Homo sapiens: one gene and its partner. The protein of the gene in region 2 interacts with the protein of the main gene of each other region in a pairwise test. Each region holds a gene or a part of one and is shown on either strand. Other genes may lie near its edges.

Region 1 (3,823 bases), on a different chromosome or scaffold from region 2:
CAAAAACAAAAAAACAAAAAACTCAAACAAAATGCAAGTTACTAAATATATAATTTAAATTATCAATATAATTTAAAGAACTGGTATAGCAAAGGTGTACTAACGGTAATTATGAATTATTTCATAGTATGCTAAATATTTTCAGAAATGATAATTGAGTACAGCTACTCTTGCTGCTTTTACAGCTTTATCTAAAAAAATGTAAAAACTACCAGAAAACCCAAATAACAGGTTTAGGATGATTTCTGAAAATGAGAGCCCAGTTTTAGTTGAATGTTTCCATAGGGATGAACTAAGATGAATTTTATTTATATTTATATACATATATTTTTTATTTTTTGAAATTCTTTGATAAGCTGCTGGTGGAATAAGATAAATTTTAAATGACTAGGCTCTTGCATCAGAATTTGAATGTCAAGAAATGAATTGTCACAAAGCAACAATAGATTCCTGGTTTGTTTTACACAAAAACAACCTCTTTCCAGGTTTTTAGATTACTTCTCAGACTGTGTTACTACGGGTCAGAAAAAAGGTAAGAGAAAAAAATTTGCCAATACTCCTAATCGGTGACTTTGAGGATTTAAGAACAAACTCCAAAAACTATTCCCTGAGACGGAAAGTTACGCTGATTCTCATCCTAAAAAATAAGGAATGTGGCACAAATTTAAAAGATAAGAGGGAAAAAATCACCAACATTCAAATAGAGAGATTCAGTTCAATTAGATATTTTAAGAACTATAGCAGACCATCCTGGCTAACAAGGTGAAACCCCGTCTCTACTAAAAATACAAAAAATTAGCCGGGCACGGTGGCGGGCGCCTGTAGTCCCAGCTACTCGGGAGGCTGAGGCAGGAGAATGGCGTGAACCCAGGAAGTGGAGCTTGCAGTGAGCCGAGATTGCGCCACTGCAGTCCGCAGTCCGGCCTGGGCGACAGAGCGAGACTCCGTCTCAAAAAAAAAAAAAAAAAAAAAAAAAGAACTATAGCAAAGAAATAAATGATGGTTTCTTAATCACAGAACCACATCCCATTTCTGTAACACTGCTATACTATTCACAAAATATTAATGTCATGTACTCATGACACACAGTCTTAATAAAAGACAGAGAAAAATAAGCAGTTAAGTATATTGGAGCTTCAACAAAAATATGATTTAACCTCTCTTTTCAGGTAGATGTGGAAACAATCTCATCAACATATAACGCATCATGTGAACTCTTCAGAGGCAACTTGGGAAGGTGCTTAAAATAAATCATTCTTAAATCTGTGCATCAATGTTTTCTTTTTCTTTCTTTCTTTTTTTTTTTTTTTTTTTAGAGACAGAGTCTCACCCTGTCACCCAGGCTGGAGTGCAGTGGTGCGATCTCGACTCACTGCAACCTCTGCCTCCCGGGTTCAAACAATTCTCCTGCCTCAGCCTCTCGAGTAGCTGGGATTACAGGCGTGCGGACCACGCCCAGCTAATTTTTGTATTTTTAGTAGAGATGGGGTTTCGCCATGTTGGCCAGGCTGTTCTCGAACTCCTGACCGCGTGATCCACCCGCCTCGGCCTCCCAAAGTGCTGGGATTACAGGCGTGAGCCACCGCACCCGGCTCCATCAATGTTTTCTTAAAGGAAATTATGCTATCTTTTTTGAAAAACCAGATCCCTTTCTAGAAAAGCAATGTAAACTCTGCAGATAGAGCCCAACAGTAATATTTTCTGACCAAGACAACCAAATATTAAAATTAAGGTGCACTACTTGTCTAATAAAACCAGTTAAAGAAATCTGCATCTTAAACATCTCGGTAATTACTGAAGGTCCTGTGGTATCAAAATATTACCTAGGCATTATTTACTAAGAATTGATGCTTGTAATTAGCTGGGTGTGGTGGGGTGCGCCTGTACTCCCAGCTACTTGGGAGGCTGAGGCAGGAGAATCGCTTGAACCCAGGAGGCGGAGGTTGCAGTGAGCTCAGATTGCGCCACTGCACTCTAGCCTGGAGATAGAGCAAGACTCCGTCTCTTTTTTTTTTTAAAAAAAAAAAAAAAAAAAAAAAAGAATTGATGCTTGTTTTACTAAAGAGCAATGCATAGCATGACTCTAAAAAAATTAGCATGACAGAAAATAGCTTGATTTGTATACCATATTGACCCATCCACAAAAGCCTATTTATATCTCAATTTGAAGTGATAAAAATCAACACCCAAAACAGAAGCCTGAAATTTGCCATGGGTATAAGGACCGGGTTTCTCCAGAAATCCAACAGCCACTTCCACACCAACACAATATTGCTTCATTTGAAATGACTTATTAGCCATCTACTGGACTACAAATGCTTTGTCATCTCCCAAATTATTAGATCCTAACTAGCTTTTGTTCTTCATCTACCTAATCAAGTTATTTACCTGCTCTATGATTTCAGGTTCCTTATTTGTCAAATAAATAGCTGGGCAGAATAACCTAAGATTTCTCCCAGTTTCAATACACTAAGATTTTTAACTCAACAACTTAACTCAATATTCTCCTGTCTTGCTTCAGAAATATATGTATATTAAAAGGATAGATTTAGCGAAAAAGTTTCTATCTTTCCAGTGCTTTAGTAATCCCTTGGCTTGTCCTTTAATTTGGCTCCAAAGATAAAAGTTCAAACACTGACCCACTGAATATTTTATTAGGCATGTAGTGCAAGTGTCCTGGTCAAAAAACCAAAAATACTGCCTAACTACTGCTATAAAGGATTTTTCAGGTAAGATAATCTTTTCAAAATCAAAACAAAAAATTACAGAAGCACAGACAAATAACATGGAAGTTTCTAAACCAGGTACCACTTAATAAGCTAGGATTCATCTAGTTCTGCAGCCAAATCCTGAAATGACTCAAAAATAATATGCGATGTAAGATTTTCTTTAGTTTGGTAATGCCCATGCCTAGATAGAGAATTAAAAATCCAAAAAGTTACGAGTTCTAAGAAAACCTGAGAAGCTTGGACAAAGTTTTTATCGTGACATTAGACAAATTAAGTTTTTTTCACTGTATTATCAGTTCCAAGATAATAAAGTATCAGAAAATTCCAGGTGATAAAAGGAAAACACACATCACATGCTAAGAAGTCTCAGAAGTGAAATAATTAAAACTAACAAAATTAATTCATAAAGTGCTCAACAAGTAATTGGGTCCAGTCTTAAAAAAGTAAGGTAACCGGTTAAGGAAAACAAAATTGTTAAAAAGCACCTATTCAAATATAAAACTATAATGGAAGAATAAAATTCCAGCATCAGTATCAATAAGCATCGATAGTACAAGAAAGAAATGTGTCTACCTGTAAATTTCTGCCTGTAAACCAAAAGGAATCGGACATAAGTTTTTTTGTTGTTGTTGTTTTTGTTTGTTTTTGAGACGGAGTCTCGCTCTGTCACCACGCTGCAGTGCGATGGTGCGATCTCCGCTCACTGCAACCTCCACCTGCTGGGTTCAAGATATTCTCCTGCCTCAGCCTCCCGAGTAGTTGGAATTACAGGCGCGCGCCACCATACCCGGCTAATTTTTGTATTTTTAGTAGAGTCGGGGTTTCCCCATGTTGGTCAGGCTGGTCTCGAACTCCTAACCCCGTGATCCACCCGCCTTGGCCTCCCAAAGTGCTGGGATTACAGGCGTGAGCCACCGTGCCTGGCCCAGACTAAGTTTTTTGAATATGACTGACCAAAATGAACAGTTTTCGTTTGACGAGGTTTTTTTTTTTTAAAGATCTGTCACCTTTTCAATTCTAAAATACTATAAAATTAATGAGTAGTTTTAATTTCACACTACCTTAGAAGTTCTACATCATTAACTGTAAAAGTT
Region 2 (3,823 bases):
ACACAGAAGTCAGTCTCCAGGGCCATGTGGAGGCATTTAAATGTCTCCAAACATAAAATATATTTAAATTCAGTGCTTTGTATGGCATTTTGTTTTACCCAGGGGAGAGAAGACAGAAAGGAGAATTGGGATAAGAATTGCAGTTAGGTGTTAGGATTTCTATTGTTTTATTTCACGTTTATTTTTGTTTGTTTTTTTTTTTTTTTTTACTAATTTTGGAATTTTATTTGAGGATGTAAAGGCTGACAGGCAAAGGCACTTGACTGTATATATGATACACAATGGCAATGAATTCGGTTATTCAAAGTAGGATATTAAGTCTTCTAACCTATTGTTATTCCTTTCAAAGCATATTTTTAGCATAACCATTTGTAGCTTTATTGGCAAGTGCTGTTAATCATTCCTTATACTTTAAGCATCTGTAGGCCATCTTCACATTTATAGCATATTAAACAAGAGTATTGAGACACCATTCACATACTTTACATGTTGGCAGTGAAGTTAGCAGCAACTGTGCAACTGTGACTGTCAATTTAATAAGTTGTATAACACTAGTCAAAAAAGGAATTCTATTTAGTAATAACCACAGTTTCAACTATTTTTCTCTAGAAAATTCGATCACCAGTAAATGCCTGTAATCATATTATAAAATTATTTCCTTGGATTATATTTTATTTAAAAAAAATTAACCATTAAGTCTGTGACAAAAAGAGCTAATTTTCAATCATAAAATAGTCAAAAATTTTTTCTTAATTTTCCACTTAACTGTTTTGAGGAATTAAAAAATTTAGGGGACTCACAGTCATTATCATTGAAAATATGATATAACTATAAATTATAAATGATAGATGCTATATGTTTAGTTGCTATAATTTGCCACCCATTTCTTTTTTATAATAGTAATAATGAAAGAAAATTTTAAATATTTTTATTTTTATAAAATAAAAATCATATTCTTGTTTTAAATGACTTAATTTCTGCATCAGTTTTTACACAGTTAAGTGGGTCACAAGTCAATTTTTAAATTTCTCCAAGGTTTATTCTTGCTGCAAGGAAAGTAATATTGTATTTCCAAAATAGCAATACATTTACAAACAAATCTGTCTAGAAAACTTTGTAGCTAGAGTTTCTTATATGTATTTACAATAATGTCATATTTTGAATTTTAATTATTGATTCAGTACCTTCAATGATTAATTCAGTGTTTTGAATTTATATTAATCCAGTAGCTGTGAGTGGAAAGATTTGGGGTGGTTGTCAGGGTAAAAAAAGAAAAAAGAGAAAGAAGAAAACCTAAATAGCTAAATTCATTACATTAAAACATTTAGAAAATTTTAAAACATCTTCTTGGGACGCTCCTCCCTTTTTAAGATTCCTGGAAACAGTTTTATATTGACACTTTATTTTAAAATATGGAAGTATGAGATATGTCTCATCTTGTTTTTCAGAAAATATTATGTCTTTAAATTATGTCCTTCTTAATTCTAATTTTATCCTATTAATTGACATTTACTAGCCAGTTTTTATTATTAAAGTGGAAGGATCTCTAGAGAAACAAATGTATGAAACATATATTCTAATCAGCATATATAAAATATTTTTATGTAAACAAATAGAACAGTATATTATTGTAGAAGGAAACATGTTAAGAGAAATAAGAAAAAGAAATGTGTTGGATTCCTTCAAAATTCTGTACTCAATGGCAATTTTTTACATATTTATTTTCCCCCAGGAGAGTTCATTTCTGAGTTGCTGTGGTGTCTTCCTTGAACTCATCAGCTCAATATAATTTTTTTTTTTTTGCTTTCCCTAGGGCTCAGGAGGAGTGAAAGCCTGTCAGAAAAACAAGTGAAGGAAGCAAAATCTAAATGCAAAAGCATTGCCCTTCTTCTAACGGATGCTCCCAACCCCAACTCCAAGGGGGTGTTGATGTTTAAGAAGCGACGTCGGAGGGCCAGGAAATACACCCTAGTTAGCTACGGTACTGGCGAGCTTGAGCGAGAGGCGGACGAGGAGGAAGAAGGTGACAAGGAGGATACATGTGAAGTAGCATTTCTTGGTGCAAGCGAATCAGAGGTGGATGAAGAGTTATTGTCTGACGTTGACGACAACACACAAGTTGTGAACTTTGACTGGGATTCTGGACTGGTGGACATTGAAAAGAAACTGAACAGAGGGGACAAGATGGAGATGTTACCAGACACCACAGGCAAGGGAGCCCTCATGTTTGCCAAGAGGAGGGAGAGAATGGATCAGATCACAGCCCAAAAAGAAGAGGACAAGGTAGGTGGAACGCCAAGCAGAGAACAAGATGCTGCCCAGACCGATGGCCTGAGAACCACGACTTCTTACCAAAGAAAGGAGGAAGAGTCGGTAAGAACGCAGAGCTCTGTGAGCAAAAGCTACATCGAGGTGAGTCATGGTCTTGGCCATGTTCCCCAACAGAATGGCTTCAGTGGGACATCTGAGACAGCAAACATCCAGAGGATGGTCCCCATGAATAGAACGGCCAAACCCTTCCCAGGGTCTGTGAATCAGCCAGCTACCCCCTTCTCGCCAACCCGAAACATGACGAGTCCCATTGCTGACTTTCCTGCACCTCCACCTTACTCTGCAGTCACTCCTCCCCCTGACGCCTTCTCCAGAGGGGTTTCAAGTCCGATTGCTGGCCCAGCACAGCCCCCTCCATGGCCCCAGCCTGCCCCGTGGTCCCAGCCAGCCTTTTACGATTCGTCTGAGCGAATAGCTTCCCGAGATGAGAGGATCTCAGTGCCAGCAAAAAGAACAGGAATATTGCAGGAGGCCAAAAGGAGAAGCACGACAAAACCCATGTTTACTTTTAAAGAGCCCAAAGTAAGCCCAAATCCTGAACTCTTGTCACTCCTTCAAAATTCAGAAGGCAAACGGGGCACTGGAGCTGGAGGTGATTCCGGACCGGAAGAAGACTACCTCAGCTTGGGGGCAGAGGCTTGTAATTTCATGCAAAGCTCCTCTGCCAAACAAAAGACCCCTCCTCCTGTTGCTCCAAAACCTGCAGTCAAGTCCTCATCCTCCCAACCAGTAACTCCAGTTTCCCCAGTCTGGTCTCCAGGAGTGGCTCCCACCCAACCTCCTGCCTTCCCCACATCCAACCCATCAAAGGGCACCGTTGTCTCCTCCATCAAAATAGCCCAGCCTTCTTACCCTCCTGCCCGGCCTGCAAGTACTTTGAACGTGGCTGGTCCCTTCAAAGGACCACAAGCAGCAGTAGCCAGTCAGAATTACACACCCAAACCAACAGTTTCCACACCAACAGTCAATGCTGTTCAGCCTGGTGCAGTGGGACCATCCAATGAGCTTCCAGGAATGAGTGGGAGAGGAGCTCAGCTCTTTGCTAAAAGGCAGTCGAGAATGGAGAAGTATGTGGTCGATTCAGACACGGTGCAGGCCCACGCTGCTCGAGCTCAGTCTCCCACTCCATCTCTCCCGGCCAGTTGGAAGTACTCCTCCAATGTCCGAGCACCTCCTCCTGTGGCCTATAATCCTATCCACTCGCCGTCTTACCCACTGGCTGCTCTCAAGTCTCAGCCATCAGCTGCACAGCCCTCCAAAATGGGCAAGAAAAAGGGAAAGAAACCCCTCAATGCATTAGATGTCATGAAGCACCAACCGTATCAGCTCAATGCATCCTTGTTTACTTTCCAACCTCCAGATGCAAAGGATGGCCTCCCCCAGAAGTCATCAGTCAAGGTCAATTCAGCCCTGGCCATGAAGCAAGCTCTTCCTCCCCGGCCAGTGAATGCTGCCTCACCTACGAATGTGCAGGCTTCGTCAGTGTACTCGG

The links.
Region 1: the proteins of SYNPO2 (region 2) and WNK1 interact in a two-hybrid assay, tested with the Homo sapiens proteins (one large-scale study listed by IntAct).

Annotation. Positions count from the first base shown.
Region 1 is NC_000012.12:755,527-759,349, reverse strand, and holds part of WNK1 (serine/threonine-protein kinase WNK1), read right to left. Parts: intron 1-3,823. UniProt on the Homo sapiens protein: Serine/threonine-protein kinase component of the WNK1-SPAK/OSR1 kinase cascade, which acts as a key regulator of blood pressure and regulatory volume increase by promoting ion influx.
Region 2 is NC_000004.12:119,028,032-119,031,854, forward strand, and holds part of SYNPO2 (synaptopodin-2), read left to right. Parts: intron 1-1,813; coding exon 1,814-3,823. UniProt on the Homo sapiens protein: Has an actin-binding and actin-bundling activity. Can induce the formation of F-actin networks in an isoform-specific manner.